Regions from separate parts of the Homo sapiens genome. Here all the other regions are linked to region 4. The links come from fine-mapping of genetic effects on gene expression. A gene starts in region 4. Each other region holds a variant in brackets. All regions are shown on one strand. Distances are between the middles of the regions. Region 1 overlaps SEMA3C (semaphorin 3C). Region 2 has its middle 220 kb from the start of SEMA3C. Region 3 has its middle 23 kb from the start of SEMA3C. Region 4 holds the start of SEMA3C (semaphorin 3C).

Evidence for each region. PIP is the estimated chance that this variant, and not a neighbour inherited with it, causes the effect.
Region 1: its variant is fine-mapped to the expression of SEMA3C in nucleus accumbens (GTEx, PIP above 0.99). The same link has a PIP of 0.9 or more in caudate and putamen.
Region 2: its variant is fine-mapped to the expression of SEMA3C in whole blood (TOPMed, PIP above 0.99).
Region 3: its variant is fine-mapped to the expression of SEMA3C in blood mononuclear cells (TOPMed, PIP above 0.99). The same link has a PIP of 0.9 or more in T cells, monocytes, monocytes after Pam3CSK4, monocytes after R848 and whole blood.

The regions. Positions count from the first base shown.
Region 1 is chr7:80,835,434-80,843,329 of GRCh38, forward strand. All of the region lies in intron 2 of SEMA3C (semaphorin 3C), which reads right to left. Among named protein-coding and RNA genes, the nearest start is that of SEMA3C, 80 kb to the right of the region's middle. The variant C/T (reference allele first, on the strand shown) is at 3,438.
Region 2 is chr7:81,136,470-81,144,365 of GRCh38, forward strand. No RefSeq gene overlaps it. Among named protein-coding and RNA genes, the nearest start is that of SEMA3C, 220 kb to the left of the region's middle. The variant G/A (reference allele first, on the strand shown) is at 4,372.
Region 3 is chr7:80,938,407-80,946,302 of GRCh38, forward strand. No RefSeq gene overlaps it. Among named protein-coding and RNA genes, the nearest start is that of SEMA3C, 23 kb to the left of the region's middle. The variant G/C (reference allele first, on the strand shown) is at 3,149.
Region 4 is chr7:80,915,549-80,923,444 of GRCh38, forward strand. SEMA3C (semaphorin 3C) reads right to left here and starts at 3,503. Exons shown (of 18, transcript NM_006379.5): 1 at 3,280-3,503; 2 at 1,131-1,271. The coding sequence starts at 1,233. RefSeq lists an enhancer at 3,023-3,092 and a silencer at 3,640-3,769.

The DNA.
Region 1 (7,896 bases), 80 kb before region 4:
TTTACTTCAGAGATATTGCTACTGACAGGATAATTTCCTCTTTTGAATGTCTTATCTCAGAAGAATTTTAAGCAGAGTGGGCTCAAGTGACCCATCCTCTCCCTGAGGCTTATTGTTTTGAAACTGGATTAGAAAGTGAATTTCACCTGTCTGTTTAGAAAAAAAAATAAAGAGCAGTGAAACTTCAGCGGACTGAAACTACAGCTACTAATTCCTAATGTGAACAAAGACAATAGAGACCAGAGGGCATGTTATTAAAACCATATTTGCTCAAAAATAATAGCCCCAAATAGCAGCCACTTGTGGGCTTACCAGTAGCAGCAAGTGTTCTAGGTGCTTTATAAACTTAGTTCACACAATTTCCATTCAAAGTCTTTGCATTCGGTTCTAATATTACTCTAGTCCCACACACAAAGGAATTAAAATTGAGCAAATTTGAGCAATCTACCCAAGATCACACAGTAAAGACTAAAAGAGGCAAGATTTCAGGATTCAAAGCAAAGCCAGTCCTTAATCTGTGAACTCAATCAGATGACCTCTTGCTTTTCTAATCAGACTGACAACTTCGACAGTTACTAGTTGGGTTTCTTTCATGTTCTTGCTCTGGACATGGGTCTGCATAGTATCAAATGTAGTATAAGAAATGCCTCAGCTTCCCAAATTTTCTTTGCCAGTCGGGGACGAGTAGATACCATACTCTAAACAACTCGAGAACTATCAACATCTCAGTGATGCTCTTCTCACTAAAGCATTAAAAAAGGTGTGAGAGGCAGCATGAAAATGGTATCAGACATAGCTTCATCAAGGGCACAGACACAGCTTCATGTAGAAGACAGAAGGTTCCCCTTTTCTTTGCTTTTTGACAGGCATGATGGGATAAATGGAAGCAAAATGCCAAATGGATTAAAGAAGGAATGAGGAAACAACTATACGCAGGGAACCCAGCTAAAGAATGACAGCAGTGCTGGGCGCGGTGGCTCACGCCTGTAATCCCAGCACTTTGGGAGGCTGAGACAGGTGGATCACCTGAGGTCAGGAGTTTGAGACAAGCCTGGCCAACATGGTGAAACCCCATCTCTACCAAAAATACAAAAATTAGCCGGGCATGGTGGCAGGCATCTGTAATCCCAGCTACTCGGGAGGCTGAGGCAGGAGAATTGCTTGAACCTGTGAGGCGGAGATTGCAGAGAGCAGAGATCATGCCACTGCATTCCAAGCTGAGCAACAGAGGGAGACTCCATCTCAAAAACAAACAAACAAACAAACAAACAAACAAACAAAAACAGACAGACAGCAGTGAACACAGAATGTATCTCCCACGCATTGCATCAGAGGGAAGATTTGCAAATGCACAGGTGTCTTGAAACAATGATTCTCGCCCTGGTTTGCCCCAGACAGCCCCAGATTGTGCCCATTTCCCCAGCATAATTATCACTAGTGCCCTCTTTCATTCTCAAAAGATTCATGTTTTGGAAGTTAAATTATATGGCTGCTCTACTTTTAAGCAACCTCTTAATTACCTTGAATGGTTTTCTATTAGTTTTAGTAAAAATTTCAAAATTTTAACCCTTTCCCATTTAGAACAAAAAGTGGAGCATGCTGTCAGTGCTCCTTTAATTTTTCATAAACGCACTGTTTGGGGCTGAAGCAAGTCTGACTGATTTTCACTATGAAATAAAATATAAAACTGTTCTTGCAGTTATTTCTACACAGAACTAGCATCAGAATCATCTGAATCTTCAGAATCATCTATTTCACAAACGTCGGATTAATCAAATCAATCTTTGGCCAACAACTGTTCAAGAAGATGTTAACACATAGGAATGCTAAGTTTTCTGGGATTTGACATTTTCAGGAATCGAGAATTACCGTATTTTGTGAATTGAAATACCACTACTAAAAACAGAATACTATAAATAGAATAAGTCTTTTGTTTCCTAAGTCGATATACTAGAGTGATGCGAAAATAATAATGAAAGCGAGATATTTTGTGGCAAAGTTACCTTGGGGTAAATGCTGCAGCTGCAAGGATTATTGGGGCAAACAGGAAAGGGTTAACATGGCCCTCCAGGCCTCCTATGATCTAGTTCCAGATTACCTTACCACAAATCTTAATCATCACTGTTGGCCTATTCTTTGTTCTTGCTCTGCTGGCCTTCTTTTTAAAACTTCAAACTTGCCTTGCTCCTTTTTGGCCTCAGGACCTTTGTACATGTTGTTCCTCTTGCTTATAAAATTCTTCCTGCCTTTTTCTAATTCCTACTTATAATGTGACCAATAGTTTTGATGTAATTTAAACAGGGCTGTCTCATAAAAGCTTTCTCGATCCTTTAGACAAAGTCAGGTCTCAGGTTCGCTGATAAATTTGCTCCTTTCCCTCCTTGGTTTTCTTTTCTCTTGAAGGCTGCCTGGAAGGTCATCTGAAATGGTCTACAATGTCCTGGATTGTGGGGTAGGGGACTACACTATGACTTGCTGAAACCTACCTTGTTTCTGTACAGTTTTCAAGTGGAAATTGACTCTAAACATGAAACACAGGTCTTTGTTCATTCACATTCTACCATTTTTTTGTTTGCTATATTGATTTTTATTATTTTTAATCATGGTGAATTAAAAATATGAGCATAAACCAATCAAATGGAAAAAATGCCATCAAATTTCAGAAAATCATGGTTTACATGAAATATTAATACTTTATCACTATTAAAAAGTAGGGTGTGTATGGCTGGGGAAGGCAAAAGGCTTGGCTTTGGAAATAGTAGACCAAGGTTAAATTTTTAGTTTCACCTTTTGCTGGTACAGGGTTTACCCCAACACCACCCTCCAGAGCACTCCCCTTAGGTCCTGCATCTACAATATAAAAAAAGAATGAGAATATTTTGGAACCAGAATAATCTCTAATGTTCTGTATAGCAACAAAATGTCTATAAAAATAATTCCTTTTTCACTGCTTACACATATTATCTATTGTTGTGGGATATCTGTAAAGCTAATGTAATCCTTCATATTACTATACATCTTGTAGGAAAAAGGGGTCTATGTAAAAACCAATCTTAGAAACATAGCCACAGTAATACAACTGTGTATTTTCTAGAAAAATGAAGCTAAACCAAAAGCAAGGCTATCTTGTTCCCCTACTATATTAGTCCATTTTCACACTGCTACAAAGATAGTACTTGGGACTGGGCAATTCATATACAAGAGGTTTAATTGTCTCACAGTTTCACATGGCTGTGGAGGCCTCAGGAAACTTACAATCATGGTGAATGGCAAAGGGAAAGCAAAGCTCCTCTTACATGGTGGCAAGAGAAAGAGAAAGAGCAAGAAAGTGCAACACTTAAAACCATCAGCTTTCCTGAGAACCCCCTCACTGAGAATAGCATGAGCAAAACCGCCCCCATGATCCAATTACCTCCCACCAGTTCTCTCCCTTGACA[C/T]GTGATGATTACAACTGAGATGAGATTTCAGTGGGGACACAGAGCCACACCTTATCACCTACAAAAAACATATTTTACTTGTGTTGTGTAATTCAATTAAATAGAGAATTCTAAACTCTGACTTCCCTTTCTCTAAGCTCACTTGGAAGACATGGCCAATCTTTTGTTCCTTGTATGGTAAGTACTGTCTGGATTCTATCTCAGGGTAGGAAGAATACACAATTAGGGAATATCTCAGATGTCATGAGAGACTGAACTGGCAGTAACTTACTTCTAAAAAGTAGAATAAAATCTGAACTTATCACTAATCTATATAAGGACAACACAGATGAGCTATCAGTATCAATGATATTCATACTTCTAGGAAGGCCTCAGTTTCAGAGTGTCCACTTGAGATATAAACAAGGCAGATAAACTTGTAGAGGAGGAAACACTTCATCTGACACCTGCTTTCTAGACCTCTTGGCACTTCTGAAAAAGCTTTACTTTGAGGCAAGGTGTTCAAGAACAGTGGTTCCAGGATGGTTAACAAAACAAAAGCAGATACCTGACAACAGACAGAGAAAAAAGTGGGCACAGAAGAGAAATGTGGTATCAGCTGGAGCTCAGGGTAAATAAGTGTACCTCTGCTAAATAAACTATTACACTGTCATTAAAAATTTTTTTTGTGTAAAAATGTTAAGATACGGAAAACATTTTCTCATGTGCTAAAGTCATAAAAGCAGGCTATATTCAATATGGAAACAAGTGTTAAAGGTCATTCACAAACAATAAGACTTGTAGGGATATATTTTAAAACATTTATAGCAAAGTCCTTGGATGGTGGGACAGAAATATAAAGACAGTCAATATTTCAGACCAATGTGTGTGCATTGGGGAAGGATGATGACCTGACATGGTATATCATGTCAGCAAAACCCCAGAACACCGAGAATCTAATAGACGCCATTCCCCAAGCACATCCCTTAAGTGACCACACTGGAACCACATATGGAAAGAGTCTTAAAGCAACATTTAACACTAGTCTTTCACAAAATTTATACTATTTGCTGGATTTGGATGCTTTCAATAAAACTCCCTTGACCATATTGTGGGCTTCCAGTGGGTACTTTTAGTCAGCACACTTAATTATAGCAAGAATAGGAGATCCTATGTGCTTAGTGAAGTCTCTTGTCCCTCTCACCCTCATAAAGTTCTGAACACAGCCCATAGCTCTCTATAACACAATGCTTGTGTTTATACATAACACAGCCCACAGCTCTCTATGACATACTGCTTGTGTTTATACATAACACAGCAGGCTGTATACAAAACAGAAATATTCTTTGAGACATATATTTATTCATTCATTCAATAGATGGTAAAAAGGCCAGGTGTGGTAGCTCATGCCTGTAATCCGAACATTATGGGAGGCAATAGCGGGTGAATCACTTGACCCCAGGAATTAGAGACTAGCCTGGGCAACATGGCAAGACCATGTCTCTACAAAAAATACAAAAATCTGCAGGCTTGGTGGCATGCACCTGTAGTCCCAGCTACTCAGGAGACTGAGGTAGGAGGATCACTTGAGCATGGGAGGTAGAAGCTGCAGCGAGCTGTGATTGCACCACTGCACTCCAGCCTAGGTGACAGAGCACCTGTCTCCAGGAAAAAAAAAAAAAAAAAAAAAAAAAGAGCGAGAGAGAGAGAGCGCGATGGTAAATGCCAGGAGCTAGGTAAAAATATGCAAAAATTTGGTCTCTCTTTCAAACAGGAGAGTCTAAAGTGGAGGTACACGAGCAACTGCAGTGTAAAAAGATGACTCCAAAAATTGAGGAGCATTAAAGAATGAAGAATTAAGTCTTCCTGGAAATAACAGAAAAATATTAGACAGAAGGAAGTACTTGATCTTGTTTCTCCATTCAATAAATATTAACTAAGCCACTCAATATTATACTAAAATCACAGTAATAAATGCACAAAGTATAGTAAAAGGGAGGGTAAGTGTTTAAGACAAGGGCTTTACATCATGGCTGTGGAAACAATCATGTAAACTTTGACCTGAAGGATAAAGTTGAGCTAATAAAGAAATAAGCATTTTCCAGGGAGTAGAAAAAGTTTGCGTAGAAACCCTCAGGTGGGAGATTCAAAGGATGATTAGAAGTCTCAGGGTTGATCAAGAAGCGGAATGGAGTGGGGTTTTCTCAGCAGAAACAAGGAGCCAACCAACACAGAAAGATCCAAATTTCTTGACTGTCAAACCATAGGGGTTGAATTTTTCCCAAGTCACTTCAGATGCCAATGAAACAAATCCGAGCAAGTACCCGCCATGATCACATACAAGTTTGCTAGAAAGATAATTCTGCTTAATGAAGAGTTCTTGAGAGCAAGATTGCTTCATGATACAATATTAAGTGAGTAAAGCAGAATAAAAATATTTTGTATTCTTAAACTATTGTGTGCCTGCATAGTAATAAATAAATGTAGAAAAAAGTCTTGACAAAAATGCAACTTATACATATTCTCATAATCCTGGGGGCTCATTTCAATGCCCTGTCAGTTAAAAGGACTGTAATTACCCTTTGATCAAGAATCAGGCTATGCAAACTTTCCTTGCAGACCACTGTAATTTACATATATTCTTATACAGGAGTCTAGCTGCACTGCACCTAATAAAATGCTGAACTAGGCAATGACAGAAACATCAGCATCTAACTGGAAAACAGCTATATGTTGGCAAAAAATCCCCATCTCTAGATTCCTTCAGAATGATGGAGGACCACCCACAGCTTTCAGTAAGACAAACTATTTGATATTTAAAAACTCAGCTCTCCCCACCAGCAAAAATTCTTGAACTATGCTTTCACTTGATGCATTCTTAAACTCATTTTCTTTTGAACACAGGAAAAATATTATAAACTATATACCATAAAACCTCAAATTTAAAGGCCCAGACTTTATGAACAAAGAGATGGGGAGATGTTTTCCTAAAAAGACAGCTACTTTATCTAAATATTATTTATTTCAATGTGACTCATTGTTTAGCCAAGTTACTACATTTGGCTTCAAAACAAAAAAACAAGTCTGCAGAACTGCAGAGGACAGTGAAGACATGTTCATTTAACTTTAAACACATTTGTCAGTCATTCTACGCAGAAGCTCCCTTTTCTCCTTTTTTCTTGTCTCTCTCCCTCTGACACTGTCTAAAATACAAGGTCAGTGACTCTGCAGTGCTCAGCGGCTGGAGCAGAGATTTAAACAGTCCTTGGGAGTGGGCTTCTACATAGTAATAGAGCCACCCTTTAATTCTTTTCAAGAGAAGCACAAAGGATGCAACCATGTTTCCTGCAGCTTTGAAAGCCCAAGACTTATCATATACACAATGGCTTTTCAATGTATATCCAAGACATTTCTCTTTCCTTTGTGCTAGACTGCGAAACCATTTGTTTCCAAATTTCACGTGATGGTATTTGGAGATGGCATCACTCAAGCTTTCAAAAGAGATCAGTGTTGCACTTTGCTGTTTTTGCTCTGGAAACATAATATTTATCATTCTTGCATGTACTTCAAGAAGAATAGCAGAATATGAGACTCAAAGTTTATTTATTTTACAAAATGCTGCTACCCCATTGAGACAAACATTAGCCATGACTTTCTTTTTAATTTTCAGTAAAATCTTTTGGTGGAAATAAGGCGCACTTAAAAGAGGAAATGAGAAACCATGAGAAATCCAGTTTGACCTAAGTATTAACAGCTCATGGTCACCTTTTTAATGCAGAGGGAAGCTTCACTTCACTGACTTACAGACATTTTCATTCCTGAATCTCAAAAAGCAACACATTTTACTAGGCAAAATGAGTTATAGATAGCTGGGGTGGTGTTATTTGAGGGACTGAACATTAAACAATTTAAGTAACTTTACAAGATTAAGTCAAACAAGCCACATTATGCCATACAATCAGAAGAGCAAATAAACAGGGTTCTAGTGCAGAATCTGTCTTTCTGTTTCTTTTCATCAGAGACATATAAACTGTATTCCCTAATTTTAAAACTCTGCAAGCTTTGTTACTTCATCGACAATGAATATGAAAAGAACAAAATTATATTTTCACATCCAGGTGTAAAATTAATTCAAGTTAGTACATTTCCAGTCCAAAAATCAATTTAGCCTAAAACATGAAATTAGAGGTTAGGAGGGGCGTGTGGGTGGGGGTGCAGATAAAGAGAAGTTGGTTAATGGATACAAACATAGAGTTAGATAGAAGTAATAAGTTCTAATGCTCTATAGAAGAGTAGGATGACTGTAGTTAACAACAATGTATTACATATTTCAAAGTAGCTAGAAGAGAGGACCTGAATCGTTTCCAACACATTCAAATGATAAGTACTCAAGATAATGGATATTCCAAATAACCTGACTCTATCATTACACATTCTATGCATGTGACAAAATATCACATGTACTCTATGTATTATCTAT
Region 2 (7,896 bases), 220 kb after region 4:
AAACCTCCCACTTAAGACAACGTTGACTTTTCCCCTGCATGACAATGATGCCTGCTCGATAAATATAAAGCAGATTTATTATTTTTTTAAATCCATTTCCTAAGCAACACACTTGGGCTGTCATTGATTTTTTTGTTTATGTCTCTCTTTTTCTTTTTTCTTTTTTTTTGAGATGGAGTCTTGCTCTGTCACACAGGCTGGAGTGCAGTGGTGTGATCTCTGCTCACTGCGAACTCCACCTCCCTGGTTCACGCCATTTCCTGCCTCAGCCTCCTCAGCAGCTGGGACTACAGGTGTCCACCACCATGCCCGGCTAATTTTTTGTATTTTTAGTAGAGACAGGGTTTCACTGTGTTAGCGAGGATGGTCTCGATCTCCTGACCTTGTGATCTGCCCGCCTCAGCCTCCCAAAGTGCTGAGATTACAGGCGTGAGCCACCACGCCCAGCCTGTTTATGTCTCTAAATAAGCTCTTTCTCCTTCTTTCTTTCTCTGCTCTGCTGTTAACTATAAGAGAGTTCAAAAATTCTAGCACTGTGGAAACATTTTTCCAGGAACTTAATATAATGACTGTCTCTTCAGAAGTGAATGCTGAGGTTGATAACTGCAGCATTAGGTTACCAGTCAAAAAGGTGAGCACTCGTTAGGAGGGGTAGGAGAGATGAGCTAGTTTTAGGCATTTTCAGGCAGAGTACACGTGGGATATGCATCTGTCTAGTCCATTTAGGCTGTTATAACAAAATACTGTGACTCATTGGCATATGAATTAGATAAATTATTTCTCACAGTTCTGGAACCTGGGAAGTCCAAGATTTAGGTGCTGCAGAGTCAGTGTCTGGCGAGCGCCCATTTCCTGGTTCATAGAATAGTGCCTTCTCGCTGTATCCTATCATGGTGGAAAGAGTGAGGGAGCTCTCTCAGGTCTTTTATAAGGGCACTAATCCTATTTATGAGGACTCCACCCTCATGACCTGATCACCTTCCAAGGGCCAAAACTGTTAATACCATCACTTTGGGGATTATGATTTCAACACATGATTTAAGGTGGCCATAAAGACTCTGGCTACTGTATTATTTATTCTTTCTCTTTTTGAGAATAATGAAAACAGATATCTGTGTAGCAGTTTATGGTATATGTAGGGTGTACATATTATTTAAACCCCACAATCCCCACCACAACTTGTTTTAATGGGTGATATGTATATCTTGATTTTACCTCCAAGGAAAACTGTGAAACTGTGACTTCAAGAAATAAAGTAATATTTTGAAAATACCATTTGAGTAGTAAGAATAAAGCAGAATCTTGAACTCAAAGCTTTTGATTACAAAGCTCAGTTTCTTTTCATCAAATTATGCTGTAACCCTTTTAGAGCAATGCTTTGCTATATGTAATGATGCCACATACCTTTTGGAAATTTCTATCTGGAATTACATTCGAGGTATTTGTTTAGTTCATTAATAGTAAAATATATAGAATGAGCAAAATTAAATGTTTTATTTGTTTTAACCATATTTTTCTCACATCTGTAGCTTTTGCCACAATTTCATCTTAAAGCTAGGGAGGCTTTAAAGTGTAAAGACAGATATGTGCTGTATTTTTTTGTTTGTGTATATGGATATTATATACTATAAAATAGGTTAAATGGTCTTTTAATTTTTTGATACATAGTGTAAATTTTTGTATCTTTTAAAGTTTTGCACTTTGGAAAACTCAATGTATAAAAAACTTCTTTTTGTTAATTAGCAATAAAAAGAAATTCTGTAATTATACTCTCAGGTTAAAATATAAGAAGCAAAGAAATATAGTATGCAGTCCAATATGTAGCCACTACTCACATATGCCTACTTAAATATAAAATGATTAAAATCAAATAAAATGTCAAACTCAATTCTTCACTCTCACTAGCCATATCTCAAATGCTCAGTAGCCACATGTGACTAGTGGCTACCATGTTGAACAGCACAGATATAGAACATTTCATTCAAAGTGGAAAATTCTATCAAAAAGCACTAGGATATCATCTCAGCATTATGATTTAGAGAGGACCTGAGAGTCAAATTGGCCCTCCACCAGTTTTTTTAAACAAAATATTATGGGATCACAGCTATATCCATTTGTTTACAAGTAGTTTATGGCCATCCTGTCACCAGAAATAGCAGATTTTGAATAGTTGCAAGAGAGATCTTATGGCTCATGAACACTAAAATATTTATTATTTGGTCCTTTACAGAACACAATTTGCCAAACTCTGACCTAGAACTTCTTTTATAAGCAATTAGTGGTATGAATTTCTGGCTAAAATATTATTTTTTATGAGTATTTATAATATTTTGACTTCCTAATTCTCCTCTTCCTTCTCCTTCCTTCCTTCTCTATTTTCTGTTATTTCAATCATATATTTCTTTACTTGAGGAATTTCTTGGTAACTTGATAATGAATAGAAGAACTTGGACTTACATTCATAAATACTTTTATCGTTTTTAGCCACCAAGACATTACAGTAAAAATACAGTAATGTTTCTAATAAATGTCAGAGAACATCATTATTCTGACATGTGATACTGGGATATGGAAAGGAAGCAATCATTCTGTTTTATGGACTTGAATAAAGAGGAAAGTCCTCCAGGAATGCAGTCTTATACATACTTCCTCTTTTTTTTTTTTCAAGAGAAAGTTCATATTTCTAGTATTAGTGGATATGACTACTTTTCACTTTAGGTTAATTTATTTTAAAAAACTCTCTAAAGATAGGATTAAAAACTGTTAAGTTTTCTCATTCAATTCTTATCTAAAAACATTCCAAGACCCTCCTCAGCTCTTTGGCATAATAAAATGAATAGGAAAGAATTTTCTTTGATCTCATATGGAACAATAATGTCTACATAACATACAATTTACCTGCAAAAAAAATCCCTTGCTGCTTGAGGATAAATGCAGTTAAAAGTTGAATTCAAGTAAAACCCTTAGCTATGTAGTAATTGCCAATGAAATTTTTCTGTTTATTAGCAGTGATAGCCCCCTGATAAGAAAATCTATTAGGCATTTTTCACACGTGGCAAAGCAAATATTCCTTTGACTCTGGATGGATAAAACAATTTACCTAACATTTGGGTAGGTCCTTTACTGTGCATCATTTCATTCATTTTGCCCAGTATTTAAGAAATAACTGAGACATGGTAACATGAGTTATCTACCCCATCTAATACACTGTAATAGTCATATACACCCACCTGGCATTTACACAGCGTTATATGGGAAAGAATTCATGGCACAGTGTATCCTAGCTCTGCTTCTTAGTAGCTGTGTAGTTTCCCACAAGTTACTTAATTTTTCTGTTTTTCATATTTCTCATCTATAAAACAGGGATTAAAAAGTATGCATATGTCATGGGATCGTTTGAGAATGGAATGAATTAAATGCTTGTGAAATCCTTTCAGCAGTGCCCCAGTAAGCGCTGCCTAAATATTAGAGAGAGCCGTGTTATTCCTGGTGGAAAAATAACATGCATCAGAACCAGTCAGTTTTGTCCTTAAATCCTAGTTCTTCACTTCTTGTCTTGTTAAATTCATTGAGTCTCATCTTTTTCATCTGTAAAATGAATGTAATACCTAGTCTCAGTAGTTGTAGTAAGGTGCAGTGAGAAAATAATGTAGCATGCCTGGCATATAATAAAATGCTAATAAGTGGCAGTTTATATTAACATAATTGTGTAAATAGGAAGACTACAAATTAGCTGACTTGTTTAGTTAGTCAAGCCAGCCAACATATATACAATTTTAAGCTCATTTCCCCAAATATCCTCTGAGACAAGCCTTGTTAAAATTGTTGAACAAATGTCTAACCAGTGAACTTTGTGCTTGCCTTTCAAGAAAGGCGTACTCTTTGCCTTTGCCAATACACGACTTCCACTCCTATGGAGTTAAGCTGAGAAACATGACTTCATAGACCATGAGAATTGCATGCAGGCTGAAATTATGGAGAACAAGCTCCTCATTCACAGATGAGGTCAGTGAGATTCACAAAGGTTAAACTATCCCCCCAGAGTTGCACAGCTATTTGGCCAAATTTCTTCCAGGAAGCTGGACTGACCCCAGCCCATACTGTTTCTTCCATTACATTGCATTTAGTATTTATATATGCTCATTTTGGATACTTGTTTATATTACTTCAGGGATGTTCTCTCTAGCATAGGCATATAAATTTTCCCCAAGTCCTATGATTCTTGAAAAGCAGAATCTTGGTTGTTTTTTTTTTTTTTTTTAGTCCCTGTTAAGCAGATGCATTCGTGTTATGAACAAATTGATGAATATTTATTTAACCAGTGAAATTGTTATGTGTTTCATATAGACTGAAAATTCTAGTGCGTGAGGA[G/A]GAAGTGGAGCAAGATGGTCTAACAGAAGCCTCCTGTGATCTTCCCCTCCCCATGCAGGAACACCAAATTGAGGAACTATCCACAAAACAAAACAAAACAAAAACATTTCATAACATTCAAAAGTCAGGTGAGTGATCTCAGTAAGAAGCACTGGAGGGGGCAGGAAAGACAGTTTTGAACCACCTACAACACCCCTCCCCTACTCCCTGGCAGCAGCCACATGGTGCAGAGAGAATCTGCGCTCCTGATGAGGAGACAGTGTGGTGACTATGGGACCTTCATTAGAACTCAGTGCTGCTCTGTCACAGCAGCAAACGACATGGGGCAGAGCTTGGCTGACACCAATGGAGAGAGCATTTATACCAGCCCTAACCAGAGGCAAATTGTCCTTGCCTGCTGTGAAAACCTGAGTCTAACTAGCCCCAACACTGGTGGCAAAAGCACTGTGGGGTCCTAAATAAACCTGAAAGACAGTCTAGGCCACAAGGACTGTAGTTTCTAGACAAGTCCTGGTGCTGTCCTGGGCTCGGAACTAGTGGACTTGGGGCATATGATCTATTGAGATACTAGCCATGGGGGCCAAGGGTGTGTTTGCATCACCCCTCCTCCAACCCCAGGCAGTACAACTCACAGTTTCGGTTCCGGGAGAGATTCCTTCCCTCTGCTTGAGGATAGAGAGGGGAAGAGTAAAGAGGACTTTGTCTTACAACTTGGATACCAGCTCAGCCACAGTAGAATAGTGAGAGGTGCCACACAGCCCTCGCTTGCTCTCAGCGCCTCCACAGCCTTGGCACTCACTCTGGCCGCACTTGAGGAGCCCTTCAGCCCGCCACTGCACTGTGGGAGCCCCTTTCTGGGCTGGCCAAGGCCGGAGCCGGCTCCCTCAGCTTGCCGGGAGGTGTGAAGGGAGAGGAGCGGGCGGGAACCGGGGCTGCTTGCCGGCCAGCGCGAGTTCTGGGTGGGTGTGGGCTCGGCGGGCCCCACACTCTGAGCGGCCGGCCGGCTCTGCCGGCCCTGGGCAATGAGGGGCTTAGCACCCGGGCCAGCGGCTGCGGAGGGTGTGCTGGGTCCCCAAGCAGTGCCGGCCCACCGGCGCTGCACTCGATTTCTCGCTGGGCCTTAGCTGCCTCCCCGAGGGGCAGGGCTCCGGACCTGCAGCCCGCCATGCCTGAGCCTCTCCCCCACTCCGTGGGCTCCTGTGTGGCTGGAGCCTCCCCGACAAGCGCCGCCCCCTGCTCCACGGGGCCCAGTCCCAACGACCACCCAAGGGCTGAGGAGTGCGGGCACATGGCGCGGGACTGGCAGGCAGCTCCACCTGCGGCCCCGGTGCGGGATCCACTGGGTGAAGCTAGCTGGGCTCCTGATTCTAGTGGGGACTTGGAGAACCTTTCTGTCTAGCTAAGGGATTGTAAATACACCAATCGACACTCTGTATCTAGCTCAAGGTTTGTAAACACACCAATCAGCACCTGTGTCTAGTTCAGGGTTTGTGAATGCACCAATTGATACTCTGTATCTAGCTACTCTGGTGGGGACTTGGAGAACCTTTGTGTCCACACTCTGTATCTAGCTAATCTAGTGGGGAGGTGGAGAACCTTTGCATCTAGTTCAAGGATTATAAACACACCAATCAGTACCCTTTCAAAACAGACCACTCCGCTCTCTGTAAAATGGACCAATCAGCAGGATGTGGGTGAGGCCAGATAAGAGAATAAAAGCAGGCTGCCCGAGCCAGCAGTGGCAACCCGCTGGGGTCCCCTTCCACACTGTGAAAGCTTTGTTCTTTCACTGTTTGCAATAAATCTTGCTACTGCTCACTCTTTGGGTCCACACTGCCTTTATGAGCTGTAACACTCACCATGAAGGTCTGCAGCTTCACTCCTGAAGCCAGCGAGACCACGAACCCACTGGGAGGAACGAACAACTCCAGATGCACCACCTTAAGAGCTGTAACATTCACGGCGAAGGTCTGCAGCTTCGCTCCTGAGCCAGCAAGACCAGGAACCCACCAGAAGGAAGAAACTCCGAACACATCCGAACATCAGAAGGAACAAACTCCGGACACGCCGCCTTTAAGAACTGTAACACTCACCGCGAGGGTCCGCAGCTTCATTCTTGAAGTCAGTGAGACCAAGAACCCACCAATTCCGGACACAATAGGGCACCAGACAGATTCCTAAGGCCTCTATTCCAGGCCCTAGCTACTGGACAACATTTCTAAACACACTGTGGGTAAGAAAGGAAACTGCTGCCTTGAAGGGAAGGAGCTAGTCCTGGCAGAGTTAATCAACTGCTGACTAAAAAGCCCTTGGGCCCTGAATAATCAGCAGGGGTACTCAGGTTCTACTTGCCGTGGGCCTTGGGTGAGACTCAGAGGTATACTGGCTTCAGGTGAGACCTGCCACATTCCCAGCTGTGGTGGCTATGGAGAGAGACTCCCTTTTGCTTGAGGAAAGAAGAGGGAAGAGAAAAGGGAACATTGTCTTGCAGCTTGGGTACCAGCATGGCCACAGTGGGGTAGAGCACCAAGCAGACTCCTGAGGTCCCTGATTCTAGGCTTTGGATCCTGGATGGCATTTCTGGACATCCTCTGGGCCAGGAGGGAGTCCACTGCCTTGAAGAGCAAAACTCAGAACTGGCAACATTGACCATGAGCTTACTGAAGAGCCCTTGAGCCTTGAGTGTAGATCAGCAGTGTCCAGGCAGTACCTGCTGTGGGCCTGGGATGCTGGTGGTTACTGGAAGGAGACTCCTCTGCTTGAGGAAATGGGAGGGAGGAGTGAGGAAGACTTTGTGTTGCAGCTTGGGTGCCAGCTTAGCCACAGTAGAATAAAGCACCAGGCAGATTCCTAAGGCTTCTGACTCCAGGCCCTGGTTCCCAGATGCATCTCTGGATGCACCTGGGGCCAACGGGAACTCATTGCCCTGAAAGGAAGGACGCAAGTCTGGCTGGATTTGCCACTTGCTGATTGTAGAGCTCTTGGGATGCAAGGAAACATAGGTGGTAGGCAGGCAGTGGTCACTGCAGGCCTTGGGAGAAACCAGTGCTGTGTTGGCTTCAAGTCTGAGCCAGTGAAGTTCCAGTGGTGATGGCCATGGGCATGATTGTGTCACCCATCCCCCAGTTCCAGGCTGCTCAGCACATGGAGAGAGACTGTTTGGGGGAAAATAAGGGAAGAGAACAAGAGTCTCTGCCTGGTAATTCAGGGAATTCTCCTGGATCTTAGCCAAGACCACCAAAGCAGTACTTCTGTGCGTCTGCAAGAACCACAGTGTTACTGGGCTTGGGTTACCCCCTAAAGCAGATAATGGCTGCAGTTACCAAAGACTTAGATCACAACATGCAAGTCTTTTAAAATACTTACAAAGCCTTCCCAAAAAGGACAGGTACACACGAGCCCAGACCATGAAGACTAAAATAAATATCTAACTGTTCAGTGTCCAGACACTGATGAACATCCACAAGCATCATGACCATCCAGGAAAACATGATCTCACCAGACAAACTAAATAAGTCACCAGTG
Region 3 (7,896 bases), 23 kb after region 4:
GCCATTCTTCATTGGTTCAGAGAACTGATATGAATGAGTACATGTAGCAAAAGCTATTGTCATTTATCATTGTACAGGAATTTGTGAAGTCCTGGCATTATAGAATGAGAAGCATCTAGGAGGCTAGCTAATCTAATGCATCTGTACCCTAATACTGTGTATGTAATGTATATTACATAGGCATATGTATATGATTAGCTAATCTAATGCATCTGTACCCTAATACTGTGTATGTTATGTATATTACATAGGCATATGTATATTACATATAAATTACATATGTTATGTATATGTAATTACATACATAATTACATTATGTATATTACATATGTTATGTATATTACATATGTATATGTGTGTACCTATGTAATATACATATATTACACATATATATATCTCTGTATGACTTTTTTATTCCCGTTTGTATACCATATATATTTTTTAATCTTGACTTTTTCATTAAATTCAAACTATAGAGTGCTTATCATGTAAAAGATGCTTGGCACTTTACATATATTACCTAATTTCATTTTCACAATAATCCTGAGAAGTTTTCTTATGCCCAATTATACACCGTGAAACAATGTTAAGAAAAAGTTTCTGAAAGAGTGAACATTTCACTTCATATCCCACAGAGCGAGGATTCAAATTCAAGTCTGTCTTTCTCCACAATAGCTTGTATTGTTAACCATAATTTTCTCTGGCTTTTCACACTACTGTTCTTCAAAACTGCCATGCTTGTTCTCACTTTAGAGTCTTCAACCTAACGAGTCTATCTAGGAATGCTCTGCCTTCCATCCTGCCATGATTCACACCTTCTACAAATTGAGATCGCAGCTGACATATCAGTTCTTCAGAGAGTTGTTTCTTGTTCATTTTTTTATTCATCATCTATCTATATTACCTATTATCTATCTATCTATCTATCTATCTATCTATCTATCTTCTACTGTCCTTTCTCTCTACTAGAATGCAAATTTCATAAATGTGTTTCCTTTACCACTATAATATCCATTAGTCCAATACCTGGCATGGATTAGCTCTTGAAAAGTATGACTTGAATTAATTAATTGATTTACACAATTTACATACAGACTGTCCAGCATTTTCTACTTTGTTATCATCTTATCATAGGTGTCAACAATTTAAAAAAAAATAATTTTTTCAGTTATAGCATATTATTTAGTTCAGGGGATGCATTATAATTTATTTAATCTTGCTCTATTTCTAAATTTTTAAAATATTTGCTTTCAACTTTTTGTTACTCTACGTTAAAGTTTCTCAACTGTGCACTACTGACATGTTGGTCCAAAACGTTTTTGTTGTTGAAGGGGGGTGTGAGACTATTCTGTGCACTGTGGGTTGTATAGCAACATTTCTAGTCTTTTTTTTTTTTTTTCGAGACAGAGTCTCGCACTGTCGCCCAGGCTCGAGTGCAGTGGGCCGATCTCGGCTCACTGCAAGCTCCGCCTCCCGGGTTCACGCCATTCTCCTGCCTCAGCCTCCCGAGTAGCTGGGACTACAGGCACCCGCCACCACGCCAGGCTAATTTTTTTTTTTTTGTATTTTTAGTAGAGACGGGGTTTCACCGTGTTAGCCAGGATGGTCCCAATCTCCTGACCTCGTGATCCGCCCACCTCGGCCTCCCAAAGTGCTGGGATTACAGGCGTGAGCCGCCGCGCCCGGCCAACATTTCTAGTCTTTATGCACTAGCTGCTAGTAACTTCCCATCCCTGAGCTGTGAAAACAAAAAATGTCTCTAGATATGGCCAAATGTCCATTAGGGAACAAAATCACCCCCAGTTGGGGACCACATCTCTAAATTATGCTGCAATAAATACCTTTAGGTGTAAGGTTCTTTCCATATTTAAAGGTATTTCTAAGGGTTAAAATCTCAGACTCATTTTATAGATGGAAAATCAGAGGCTTAAAGAGTAAATTACTTTGCCTAAGGCTATACACTTGTGAGGTAGAAAAGTTGGAATTTTATCCTCAGTCAGTATGAAGTCAGGGCCTTGTGTTTCAGCACTATGTTTCAGGACCCCTAAATAAAGGTCCCATATACTATGGTGCCAGACAATAGTATCTCAATTCTTGATTCCCCCTTTACCCTATTTCCCCTCCTTTCTTTAAGGATTTCTTTGCTCCATCCTGCCTTCCAGTAACCTTTCATTTTTATCTCTCTTGGAGATTCATCTTTTCCCTGTCTCCTCATTTTACTCACCCCTCCCTTTGTTGTAGGTTTAGTACAAGCTGACCCTGAGCCAAGGATGTATGTGTAACCAATTTATTAAGGAAATTCCTCTAGGGCATGCAGGTTAGGGAGTTGGAAAAAGCAGAAGAAAGAAGGGAAGTAAGCCAAGCAATAGTGCAGGTGCAGAGGCATGCATCCTGTAGAGAAGAACTTTAGCCTGACTTTTCAGGGAGCTCTGGAGTGTGTGTCACACCTTAGAGTTGCCCCAACTAGAGGCAAGAGAGCTGTTTTCATAGCATCATACACTCTTGTGTCATTGTTATAGGATAGGAGAGAGAATATACACGAAACATTTAACATCCCTCCCTCCACACACAGAAATAACAAAAAAGGATAATAAGGGATTTGTGAAGAGCTCCCATATTGCTCACCACATACTTCTCAGTTATTGTGTTATCGCCACCATGAAATTTGCCATCTGCTGTTTTCTGTTGCTGTAACTGCTCTGCTAGGTCCCAGCTAATAAATAAGGAACACTGAAGCTGAATATAAATAATGGTTCTGGGAACCAAAGTTCTGAGACAGTCTCCTTATAGACCTCTTCGGTTTTTAACCCAAAAGGAAAAAAATGCAGGGTGCTCATGTGTGTGGAAATTCATTAACACTTTAAGAGATCTCTGGATCAAAAGTAACCTCTTAGGGAATGTGCATTTCAAGGCCCTGTCTTACCCCAAACTGGAATTTTTGGCCCGAGGAAAATAGCAAATTATCTCACTTAGGGACAGCTGGTGTCCTCACGGAGGTTTAAATTTAACTTAGCAGCTAGAAGCTAGTCATCTTTAGATTCAGAAATACGAATTCATTGCAATAAGGAGTTCACCAAGGGCAGGCCGAAAGGACAAAGCAAAGACAAGTACAGTCTTATTTCAGTGCCATAAAGGAATTGTCATATGA[G/C]CCTTGACACACAAATTCCACAACTGAAGATCATGCAACTATTGCCCAATAAATTTAAACAGAGTGATTGCACTTAGCCTTAATTGTCCAGTTTCTGTTTTTGAAAAAAAGGCAATGAGTAACACAATGTTTCATAACCAGGAAAGAAGTTTTTGAATTTCTTTATATCACAGATAGTGAACACAATCTAAAAATAAATATTAAATAATCAAAATCCCAATGTAAAATATATATCTATCTGTATATATTATCACATGGAGGGAAAATTTGCACCACTAATATAAATGCTATTTATTAGGCATTGCTTTTCTATAGATTTTCATCCACTCTTTCATTCTTCTGCTCTATTCCTTGGTCACCTTCCTTCCATCTCTTTTCTTTCCCCTTTTTTCCATCTTCAATTTAGTGTTTGTTTCTTAAGAAACAAGTTTACATATTTCTTAGTTCTCTGTCAACAGAACCTTTCTCACTTTTCAACTGCAAAAATCAAGGTATTTTTCTAAAGAATCCATCAAAATAGGAGTTCTAATGTCCACTGATTAAATAATAATTCTTCGCAAGGTGCTTCAAATGCATTGACATATTTGAGAAAGCTATTGCAGACAGATAGCAAATTTATTCCCCTCTTAATATGTTAGTACTAACAAACAACTCAAGTCAGTTTGTACAATCAGATTGCTATTTAGAAGTTTCAGTTCTAACTAAAAGGCTGTTTTTCATCTTCACCAAACACTGGCTAGTCAGCAACTCCTGCCAGCATTCTCATAGCTGCCCCAGACAGCCAGTTGCAGGAACTCTGGCTGAGTCATGTCTCTGCTCAGCTACTCAGTAATGAAATATCCCTAGGGACATTCCTAAGACATGTCAGAGATGTGTTTCTAGTCTCCACCTATTTCTTTGTCGTGCCCCAAGCTGTGCCCACATTAGTGGAATTTCCAGTGCATTGCCATGCTCAGTAGGCCAAAGAGAAAAGTCTGCAGAATTGCTACTTAATATTACTTAATAAATCAGTAACAGAAGCAATGAATGGAATGGAATGCAAAATTCTTGGCTCTTAGCCTTAGATAGAACCACTTCCTTCCTATGAGCAAATAGTGGTTCATAGGTTAGCTTGGGGAGGGCTACTTCAAAGGGATAGTGTCTAAGTAGTCAATTTTGCTTGAATAAATTATGGAAAATACAGTTTTCAAGAGGAGAGGCTATGCTACTTTTTTCCCTTTTGGAATACTGGGTATATCCTAGGTAATAGAGAGTCAGTGAACAAATCTTTGCTGATGCTAATAGTTAAACAAAATGATTCAAATAGTTACTGAGCAAACATTTGCTGATTAAATAACATAATGATTCATATATGAAATGCGTTAGTTAGGTTCTACATATACTGTATCATTTCCTTTCAACCAGTATTTTCTATTTGTCCCAGAATAGCCTCCAAAAGAAAATTGCTGCTGGCAATTTAAAAAGACAACCATCTAAAAAAAAGTAACAAGTTGACCGGGCGCCGTGGCTCACGCCTGTAATCCCAGCACTTTGAGAGGCCGAGGCGGGCAGATCACGAGGTCAGGAGATCGAGACCATCCTGGCTAACGCTGTGAAACCCTGTCTCTACTAAAAAAATATAAAAAATTAGCCAGAGCGAGACTCTGTCTCAAAAAAAAAAAAAAGTAACAGACGGTAGAGGCAGTCAAATGTAGAGAACGCAGAAGCAACTCTTCTTTTAGTCCCTATTTATTAATAACCCTTTCTGGACCAAAACAAAAGAACAGTAATGGACAAATTTTCTTGCAGATTCAAGAAAACTGCTTCATATCACTATTATCTAATTATCTTCATCAAGTTGCCACACTACTGTTCTAAAATGTCTCTTTGATCCAAGCACTCCATGTGCTCCCCACTGTCAATGTCCCAATGCTACAGAATCTGCTTCCTTCCAACCTTTTACCTGCTACCCACTGGGTTGATGCTCCTGGACTCATGACCAGATCTTATCTTCACATATGGCAAACATCGCTGTTGGATAAACACTTTCTGCAGAGATTTCCTTTTGAGACATGTATCTAGGTGGCCATGGGTTGCAAAAATTGGTGAAAAAGTTAAAATCTATTTGCTCTACTAACTGTGGTCAATTGCTGATGTAATAAATAACATAATGATTCATATATGAAATGTGTTAATTAGGTTCTACAATACTGTATCATATCCTTTGAACGAATATTCTTTTTTAGTCCCAGGATAGCCTCCAAAAGAAAATTGCTGCTGGCAATTTGAAATAACAGGCATCTTAGAAAAATAACAAGTTAATAAATATAATAAAGAGATGGTAGAGGCAGTCAATGTAGAGAATGCAGAAGCAACTCTCCTTTTAGTCCGTATTTTATTAATAGTCCCTTCTGGACCAAAACAAAAGAACAGTAATGGACAAATTTGCTTGCAGATTCAAGAAAAGTTAATTAATCCTTAATCCTTAATTTAGTTCATGCTTCAAAATACCGACAATGTTTCTTTTCAAAAAAAAAAAACCAATCTGAACAATCTGAGTATTCCACTTCCCTATTTAAATCTTGCACAGTTCCCTATTTTACAGAGGATAAAAGGTAAACTTACCATGGTAAAATGGCTTTCCAATGGGACCTTAACCAGTCCCTTCCTCTGCCTGTCTCATTATGGGATCCAGTCTCGATGGGCTCTAAATCACTCATTGTTCTCAACACGTGGCTCCCTCTCAAGCATCTATGTCTTTGCATTTGCTCTTCCCTTTACCTAGTATAACTTTCTCTCACGCACTGCCACTTTTTCTCAGTTGCAGGATTTGTCTGAATGGGGACTATGAAGATATTTTTATTTTACTTGTTTTGTATAGTCCACTGAACTCTGAGCTCTTTGAAGACAAAAATCATAATTTATTTATTTTGTTAACATTGAATGTAAAGTGTAAGCAAAAGTCATTGAGGACCCTAAGCAAATTGGCATCAAGGAGGAAACAGAATGGACACTTAAGAAAGAGCATTACAGGACCTTACAACTGCTAGTTAAGTATTGGCTAGAGTATTAAAGAGAAACATGTCCTGCTACCCCAGCTTACCAAATGGGCATCACTTTTTCAGTCTGCTGAGATGCGATGACAGTCGCAGACCCACCTGGGGATATCCTGGCTATTAATTATACTTAGTGCAGAGTTCAAAAAGGACTCAGAACCATCAGGCGATTAAAGGATGTAGATTATGGATATAATTTTAGAAGAAAACAAAGCCACTTGAGTCATTCTCCTAATAAAGCAAATTCTGTTAGAAGGGGTAACACATTAAGCAGCATGTTGGTATGTACTTATGTACGTATGTATGTATGTATGTATGTATTTATTTGAGATGGAGTCTCGCTCTGTCACCCAGGCTGGAGTGCAGTGGCGCAATCTCGGCTCACTGCAAGCTCCGCCTCCCGGGTTCATGCCATTCTCCTGCCTCAGCCTCACGAGCAGCTGGGACTACAGGCGCCCGCCACCACGCCCGGCTAATTTTTTGTATTTTTAGTAGAGACGGGGTTTCACCGTGTTAGCCAGGATGGTCTCCATCTCCTGACCTCATGATCCTCCCACCTTGGCCTCCTAAAGTGCTGGGATTACAGGCATGAGCCACTGCGCCCGGCCTATTTATTATTTCTTTAACAAATGTTTATTTATGACGTTCTCTGTGTAAAATATTGTAGTAGGTAGAGGTGACAACAGATTGATATAATCTTTTATGGAGCTTACATTCTGAAGACAAAGAAAAACAATAAATAACAAACATGTAATAACATAAATTACAAATAATAGGTTGATTATTTAATTATAATCTGAGACTTGGGGTGAAAAAAGCATAGAATGGAGAAATATAATCTAAACTTTGGGGTCAGGCAAATTCCTATGGGGAAATGATATTTATGATATGAGGATGGAAGGTGTTACTAAGGTGAAGAGGGGATGGTAGAGAATTCCCGGGGTTTAGGGTATAACCTGTGCAAATGCCCCATGGTTGCATGGTGTAGAATACATTCAAGGAAGAATTTTGAAAACGTTGAATTCATTAGATTTTCTGGCTACAGAATTATAGCTTGGATATGAATAATGCTGATGTGAGGAGTCCGGTTAGCATGTGAGAAGTGAAAATATTTGAAATACATTGGCATAAAATTAACAGGACTTGATGCTAGATTGGATATCAAATTTAAATGAGAACTAGGGAGATGTTGAAGCCCCTCTCTGCCAATGGAACACAGGAGAGGGCCGTGAGAATATCATACTTTCAGTTCTAGAGACACTAAATGTGATGTAGCTATGGGATGTCTGGGTAGAGCTGTCAAATGGGCAGGTGGTTATCAGTGTGGAGCTCAGATGACAGTTATAGTACTGAGGCTTCTATTTTAGAGTCTTCCATATATATAGGGTAAATGAAATCATTGGAGAAGACAATAAAGCCCAGGTAAAATATGTGGAGTGGTAAGGGAAGAAGGCCTAGGAGAGAGCCCTGAGGAATTCCGACATTTAAAAGTTTAATAAAGCAGAAGTGTCAGCTAGTCAGACTGAAAGTGAGTGTGAAGTCATTTGCCAGCTGGAACAGTTAGCAAGCTAGAGATTTTAAAAGACAAAGTACTTTTGCAAAGAGAAAATTATCCAAGCAAAAGGATTGGATAATTTCTTGGCAATAAAAGTTTTCGAAGGTCCAACAAGTCTTTTTTTCACATTCAAGTAATGTAAGTAAAGTTTAGAAAAA
Region 4 (7,896 bases):
CTGGCCAACATGGTGAAACTCCGTCTCTACTAAAAATACAAAAATTAGCTCGGTGTGGTGGCACGCACCTGTAATCCCAGCTACTGGGTAGGCTGAGGAAGGAGAATGGCTTGAACCTGGGAGGTGGAGACTGCAGTGAGCCGAGATCGTGTCACTGCACTCCAACCTGGTGACAGCGTGAGACACTGTCTCAAAAAAAAAAAAAAAAAAAGGAATTTGAGACAAAGTTTCAGAGACACTCTGCTATAGAAAGGTCTGAGAATATATTGTTTATCAAATGAAAGAAAAAGTACTTGCAATGACACTAAAGTTTATGCAGAGTTGAAAGAAGTAATAAAATTATAAATGACCTTGATTGGCAGGATGGTGTTCCTCATCCATGTCTTGCTCCATCTGTCCAATTAGTATGGGTTACTTGACTAACCAAATTCATTCATCTGTAAGTCCTTTGAACTATATACATTAAAGCTCATGCAAACCATTCCCTCAGAAGACCTTGCACCTTTTATGTATGTGAAAATCTGAAATCACACCCATTTCCCTAAGCTTCTGAGAACATTTGTATACAACAACCATCAAAAGCATATTTCCAATTATTCTTTTAGGTCCTTTTCAATTAATTAGGGGACTATGCCAATCTCAGGAAATCCTTGTGGAAAAAGAAGAAACACCATTAGAACAACACACGGAGTAACCAGTTTTGAGACTAATGCCCAAAAAATTAATTGGGAGAATTTTTTAGTAATTGAACCTGCATAGCTCTCTCTGCTGCTGAGGATTAGCACAAAGGGGCAATTTCTTAACATTACCAGGTGAACAGTAAGATCAAAGATGCTAGGCTTTGAGCTCGTGCCCATCTCCTCTGTGAGTACACAGGCAAGCACAGAAGAATTATTTTACAAAAAGCAGCATATATTATAAGCATTTTCATAAATACCTCAAATCCAACAGAGGATCTTTGTCTATTAACCAATCATTTAAAATAGCTATTGTCCTCCAAAACGCAGCCCAGTAAATATTTTTAAAATTAATATCCAGTAATATTTATACTCTTAATTTCTGAATCTGGATAAGGAAGATAACAAAACTTAAAATAACATTTTTCCCAGAGTGTTTATCAACTCTCTTACCATCAAATGTTAAATAAACTCTTGCTTGGGGCTGGGAAGATCCTTTCACACAGATAGAACAAATAAATACTCCAACCAACACGCAAATTGTCCGGAATGCCATTTCTTCAGATATGCAAGTTAATATCCAAGGGAAAATACCTTTAAGAGAGAGACAACATGTTTGTTATATCTCATTTCACATTTTAGGAGTAGGAAAAAACAGCAATCTAGACAAAACACCCTATTCACAAAAGAACCATCTGAACTTTTACAGTAATGCAAACAGTAGGAGGTGCTGTGTCTTTGCTTCTCAGATGTGAAAATGTGGATTTGATTCATTTGTGTCTGGAAGTCTTTGCAACAAGAGAAACTTTCATCTTCCAGCAAATTGATGCTACCATCAAAACAGAACAAAGCAGTGAAGAAAAACACTGATACCCAAAGGAAAGCCCAATATTTTAACGGATCTTCTCTCTAGAAATCCATTACATTAAAAAGACTTGAATAGAATTGAGCTAAAAGAATATTACTGGATGAGAACTCTTTCCCCCCACTAACGTAACAGCAGCAGCAAAATCTCACATGAGCATTCATGTGTACCTACTCACTTCAATAGTCATTAGCTCTTTTGGAGTAATTGTCTCTGGAAGTGGTGTTTCCTTACATAAATCTATGTGTGCTCAATCCTGGATCACTGAAGTCACTGGAATCAGTTATCTGCCATTTTATCCAGATGACCAACAGGCAGTTGTTAAATGATGCAGTTGAAGTAACCATGGACTAGTGCCAAATTCAAACCAATGACCTAGTGGTGAGCAATCCAGTGAGCCATGTATCCACCAATGCATATTTTAAATAAATCAACCAGAATGTGGGCTGTCAAAATTCCCAAAGATAAATCAAAGAGACAGGTGTCACTGCTTCAAACTATAGATATAAAATTGGTACATGCTATTAACTAATATCTGAATCCCAAGGAAGACCAGATAATGTGTTACCATAAACCTACAGGAGCTCTAGTGGCTACATCATGTAAAATAAACTCAGGACCATTAAAGAAACACAATCATTTTGCTTCTACCATAATTACACAATAAAGTGACCCAAGAGTCCAGTAAAGAAATTTATTTTTACAGGTTACAACAATGCTGATCTTCATTATTTGGCTTTTCAAATTAAAATTTCATAGTCAAAATTATTAAATTCTTTGTAAGAACCACTAACAACTGAAAAAGACAGCTTCATTAATACAGAATAAAAAGAATTAAATGGAATATGCAATTTTAAACAAAAATTGTAAGTAGATTTCCTAGGTGGTGCATATGTTATGAGAGTTAGAAATGAAATTGTACGCTTCTTTTACCACACAGATGGAGGAAACTCTAGAGATGTTTGTGTTGGTAATTTTCAAAAGAAACAGTTTCTTCCTGCTTCCACAACCTCTTCACCCTGTCATCCCTAAATTAACTTAGAAAGAAACTGATTTTATGGGTGACTTTCCCTCAGTAATTTACCCCTTGGTTCTGTTGACTTCATAGTTAAAGCCAAAAGAAAAAAACTATTAATATGCCTAACCTTTGTTATGTTTACTGAGCAAGTTGATATTATTTACACATTTTTTTTACATATTGGTATCTTACCTTATATGTTTCTCCCAAAAGTACATATACAACCAATTGCAAAGAATACTGGTGATACAATGGCAGGTGAAACGAAGATAGTCTACAGGGCAATTTGATTTACATCCCACCTAGTGATGAGGAGTGAAAGACTGAAAGCCAAGTGTCTTAAATACACCCCCGCCTCCCCAACAGTATCTTACAACTTCTTCCCTTTAACTCAGACACAGACGTTCCTCTTGGTGTTTTCACTTCTGCTGATCGCAAACTAACAACACATTAAGAAAAGAATTCTCTTATCTCCTCTGGAGCAATTTTGCCTTTGAAGGCACTGTAATACTCAACTTGAAACTCTCCGCAGGTGTCACCGCCTAAAGAAACAACTCGAGCAGGGCTCTCAGCAAGGGGAAAGCTTCCCTGACAAACCGCGTGTGTTCTTAAGAAAATGTCCAGGCTTGAGCATACCAATGTATGAAAAATCAATATACAGGCCAAAAAAGTTATACTTTGCTAAATCTGTAATGCGGAAAATGACCAATTTAGCTTACCGAGGTTGAAAGAAATCAGCACGGAAAAGTCATCAGTTTGCTACCGGGGTTGGATGCGCTTGTGTCTCCAGTCCTTTTCCCAGACGACCTTATTTTCTAGCACGTCGCAAAGGTGAAATTCTTTCTTCCCGGTCCTCTGAGTTTCTTTGTAAAGGAATCTCAGCGCTGCAGTGCCGCGGCACCCGGAGCTCTTCTCCGCGTCGCTCAATCAAGCACCTCGGAGTGAATGGAAAGTGGCCGGAGGCCGGGGGCGAGCGCTCTTGGTGTCCGATTACAGCGCCGCGGCGCGCGGCTCCGGCTGCCCCGGCGCGCCGCCCTGCAGGCTCGCATCACCACCGCGCAGCCCCGGCCGCATCTCCGCCAGCCGCGAGGCCCCACCCCGAGCGCGCCCGCGAGAGCCTGGCAGGGAGCCGCGGGGGCGGACCGGGCGGGGCCGACCCTTAGAGCTCGCGGCTGGCCAGACGCAAGAATGCGCGGCCGCAGGCTGGAGCCCTAGCTCCGCAACCCTGCTCCTTTCGCAGTCCGCGGCGGAGTGAGCAACTTGCTGGGTGCGCTCCACGGTTTTTGTTGCCGGCGGCTCTCGAAGACTTACACAGGCTTTGCCTGGCCGTAAATATCAAAGTGCAAAGCAGTTGTGGTTTTTTATTTTTGCCAGGGAAGGATCACTGCAGCCTTTTAAGGCAAAGAGATGCGTTTTTAAAAGGACGTGAGTTTTGTCCTTATTCTGCTGCGTTTTTTTTTTGTTTTTTGTTTTTTGTTTTTTGTTTTGTTTTTGGAGAGGGAATCTCACTCTGTCGCCAGGCTGGAGTGCAGTGCAGTGGTGTGATCATGGCTCACTGCAACCTCCGCCTCCCGGGTTCAAGCGATTCTCCTGCCTCAGCCTCCTGAATAGCTGGGACTACAGGCTCCCACCACCACGCCCAGCTAATTTTTGTATTTTTAGTAGAGACAGGGCCAGGATGGTCTGGATCTCTTGACCTAATGGTCCGCCCGCCTCAGCCGCCCAAAGTGCCGAGAGCCACCGCGCCGGGCCTCTGTTGCGTGTTTTCTAAAACAGGTCAAGATAAACGACAATCTTGTTGCACAAGTGTATCCTTTTAATGGGTATTGTTTCCTATTGAGTTTCCTTAATGCCCTGAAAGCAGTAATTCTGTTGACCCCTCCACGTTGACTCATATCCAGTACGTTGTCCCCAACCATACTCCCAAACATAATTACACGAAGAAATTATTTGACAATTCTATGTGGAGAGGCTGTTCTGAGTTATGCCAACAGATTGCCATAACCACACATCTACAGAAATACATCAGAGGTATTTTTCCAGCATTACTTTCAGGTACACTCGTTAAACTCTGGAACTGACTTTGATGTTTAAGTGAAAATTACTTCTCCGGACCACAATAAACTAGATGTTTAAACATCGGGAGAAATGAGCTTTGATCCCCATAAAACAAGCAGGCACTTGCTTAAAATCACTGTGGGGCACAGCCCAGCAGATGTCACTCTACAGAAGGAACGTGGAGTGTAATATCTCCACCTTATACCTGACAATTCACATAATGAAACAATCATTAAATTCTTATAAACTGTATCATAGAAAACCCCTCTGGGGGTGCAAAATCATTGTTCAGTGGGAAAGTTGAATGAAATCTCAGGTAGGAGGAAGAGGTGAGTGAGACACATCTTTCATGTGTCTGGGGCCCACCTCTTGTGTTCAGTAAACATACACGTGTCTCAGACTCACGCTGCATAGTCAAGGAACGAAGGATCAAGTCAAATAATGCAAATTTATGAGTTCAAAAATACTATTCCAGGGCTAATATTATCTCCAAACGTCAAAAAATTAATATAGTAACAACAGTTAAAATTATTTTTTGTGATGATGCGTGAGAAGATCCTTGACATAAATTTGTAATAAGGAATTTAACCCCCCAAAAACTGACAATATTAAAATCCAGATGTCAATGTGAATAAGCACTGTGCGTGCTTCTCTGAAATACTTCTGAAACTGAGTAAGATCCAGGTTATATACTCTCCACTATTATCCTCCTTCTGATATCTCATTCGGCATTTATATATTAAGCAGGGAGAAGAATAAATCATTAGAAAGATGAGTGTGTGGATTAAATTAATTTAGAAATGTGGAGCTGTTAGAAATTGATCAGCAAATTCACGTAAGATGGAATTCGTTTATACATTTTAAGTTTGAGAAAACCACGATAAAGAGTTGCAAGATGAAATGCATCTCAAACGGTGTATTTACAAAGGAGCTTAATTCCAAACTCAATTTACAAACACCAATGAATTAGCTCAATCTGTTACACATTCAGGGGTTTGGAGGCCTTGACAAATAGCTTAGATTTAATCACAGCCCATGAAATTTGTGCCGAAATTCCCTCAATATTGCTCAAATAAACCTCTTTTCAATGTGCTCCTGGGATTTAATGGTATTTGCTTAGCTCTGAGACGTTTACAGTTGGCCACACCTCAAAATGAATCATAAAAATACTGATAGGCTTTAGCCAAGATAGATTCAAGCGCAAGGACACAGTGCTCATGCTTGCCAGAGACTTAGGCCACAGAGTGGAATTTTAACAGTGGCACTAGAAGCCCCTAAGATTAATCTCTGCCCACATTTCCCCACACTGCTTAAAACACCTTGACAAAACAAGACTTGCCTAAGAAACATTTCTGGGCACTACCACTTTTTTAAGACTTCAGCTTTGACTGTCCTTACAAGTGGAAAACAACAGCTAATTGAGAACGCTGTTTTCGGTAAGGGGGACACTAAATGGATCTACAGGAGTAGTGGCACAACTAAATTTAGAGAGCACTAATTACAATGTTTGCACCCAGCAAAACGTTTCAGACGAGCGGCCAAACTAAAATACTTAGGATAACTTTTATTAAGACGTTTTAGAAATGGTGCAGTATCTTACACACTGAAGTGTCTCTGCCTGCCAAGGTGTAGTGGGCATATTTTTAATATTTTATGTTTTTGATGGTCCTGAGGAATGCTATTTAACTTAAAACTCTAGCACCGATGTTGAGTTACATACTTTTCTCCAGGAGTTTCTGCAGCTATACATTATCTTATTTCAAATTTAAAGAAAACAGATTTTTCCCTATTATACAGATGAGTCATGTAAATAAACTTTACCCTAACCAGAGAATATTAATCATTCAGAGGTTAAAAATTGTCTTATTATTTAGTCATAAAAACTGATATTTGTAATAGAAAATAGATTGTGTATTTGCGAGGTACTTTGCTTATTATCTGCATAGCATTCTTTAATGAAGTTACAATTTTCAATGAGAGAACGTTGAAGGTTTGCCCAAAGTCAAATGGGTAGTAAATATCAGAATAGGAAGAGAAACTCAAGCGTGATTGCCGTAATGTCTCAGGTTTTTCAATAAGTTTCAATACTTCCTCTTACCTTTTTTGCTTAACATTTTTCTCCTCTTTTCTACTTCCCTCTCTTTCTCCTTCACTCAACTTCCATATGCCATCCTTTTAAGTTTCCTGAACTGTATCTTTGGAAAGTCTCAACTTCCAATGGTTACTTACTTTATTTACATCAGCCTTACGTCTCCTTGGGTTACATTAGCAGCTCTGAGACCAAGCCGGTCAAACAGGTCTGGTCTAGAAATCTGTGTGTGAAACTGCTACCTGCACAGCAAATAGGCTTTAATATTTCCTCTATCAAATCATTTCTAATTTTTCAATAAGATGAGTGTATCTCTATTTTCATTCTTAATCTATTGCTAATCTGTATTGCTGACTGTTTTTTCTCTGTTGATATGTACCACTCTATGCTTCTCAAATTGTAGGGTTCTTGACATTAAACAAAATAAACTGGCAACAGTGGTTTGCTCTGGAGAGGAAAATTGGCTAGAAAGGTTTCATGGTTCACTCTGTTTTACATTTATAATTTTAAACGAGGTGAGTGTATAAGCTATTACAAAGTTCAAAGTTTAAGTCCTCAGTATTTCCTTAAACACCTTTAAACATATCAAGTATGTTAAGCGCAATATTTCGCAACTCAACCAAAATAAAAGCATATTGCCTCTAATGTTTATATATTACAATATTTCATGTAAAAGTAGAATAGTAAAGAATTTCAGTAGTAAGAATCCCTTAGTGAATTTACTTCCTTAGTACAAAAATGTCATGTGTGCATGACAAAGGTTGTAATAGAGTTATTATGATCATTCACATTTTCATCACAAGGACAAAATGTAAACTTTCTATTTGTTTTGCCTTCTTGGAATATTTCATGTGAAGCCTCAGTGAGGACAGAGTATATGTATTTGAGATTATATACAACTGCAGTTGCAGAGAATCCCACAGTTAATGTTTGCTAGTGGAGTATATGCACACCCATCCACAGTCACGTCTTGAGGAAAGCCAGCAGCTTTTATGAATCATATTGGATCTGAAGCTCTCTGTCTCTACACCTGGAAGACCAAAACCACTTCCCATATCTGTTCTCACAGGAGAGCCATAAGAGGCCTGCATAAGTGCCTCTGATTGTCAGACGCATGTAATGAGGCTCAAAAATAATAACCAGCTGGAGCAATGAATGCAGGACTGTTAGTTACGGCTAATTGACTCCC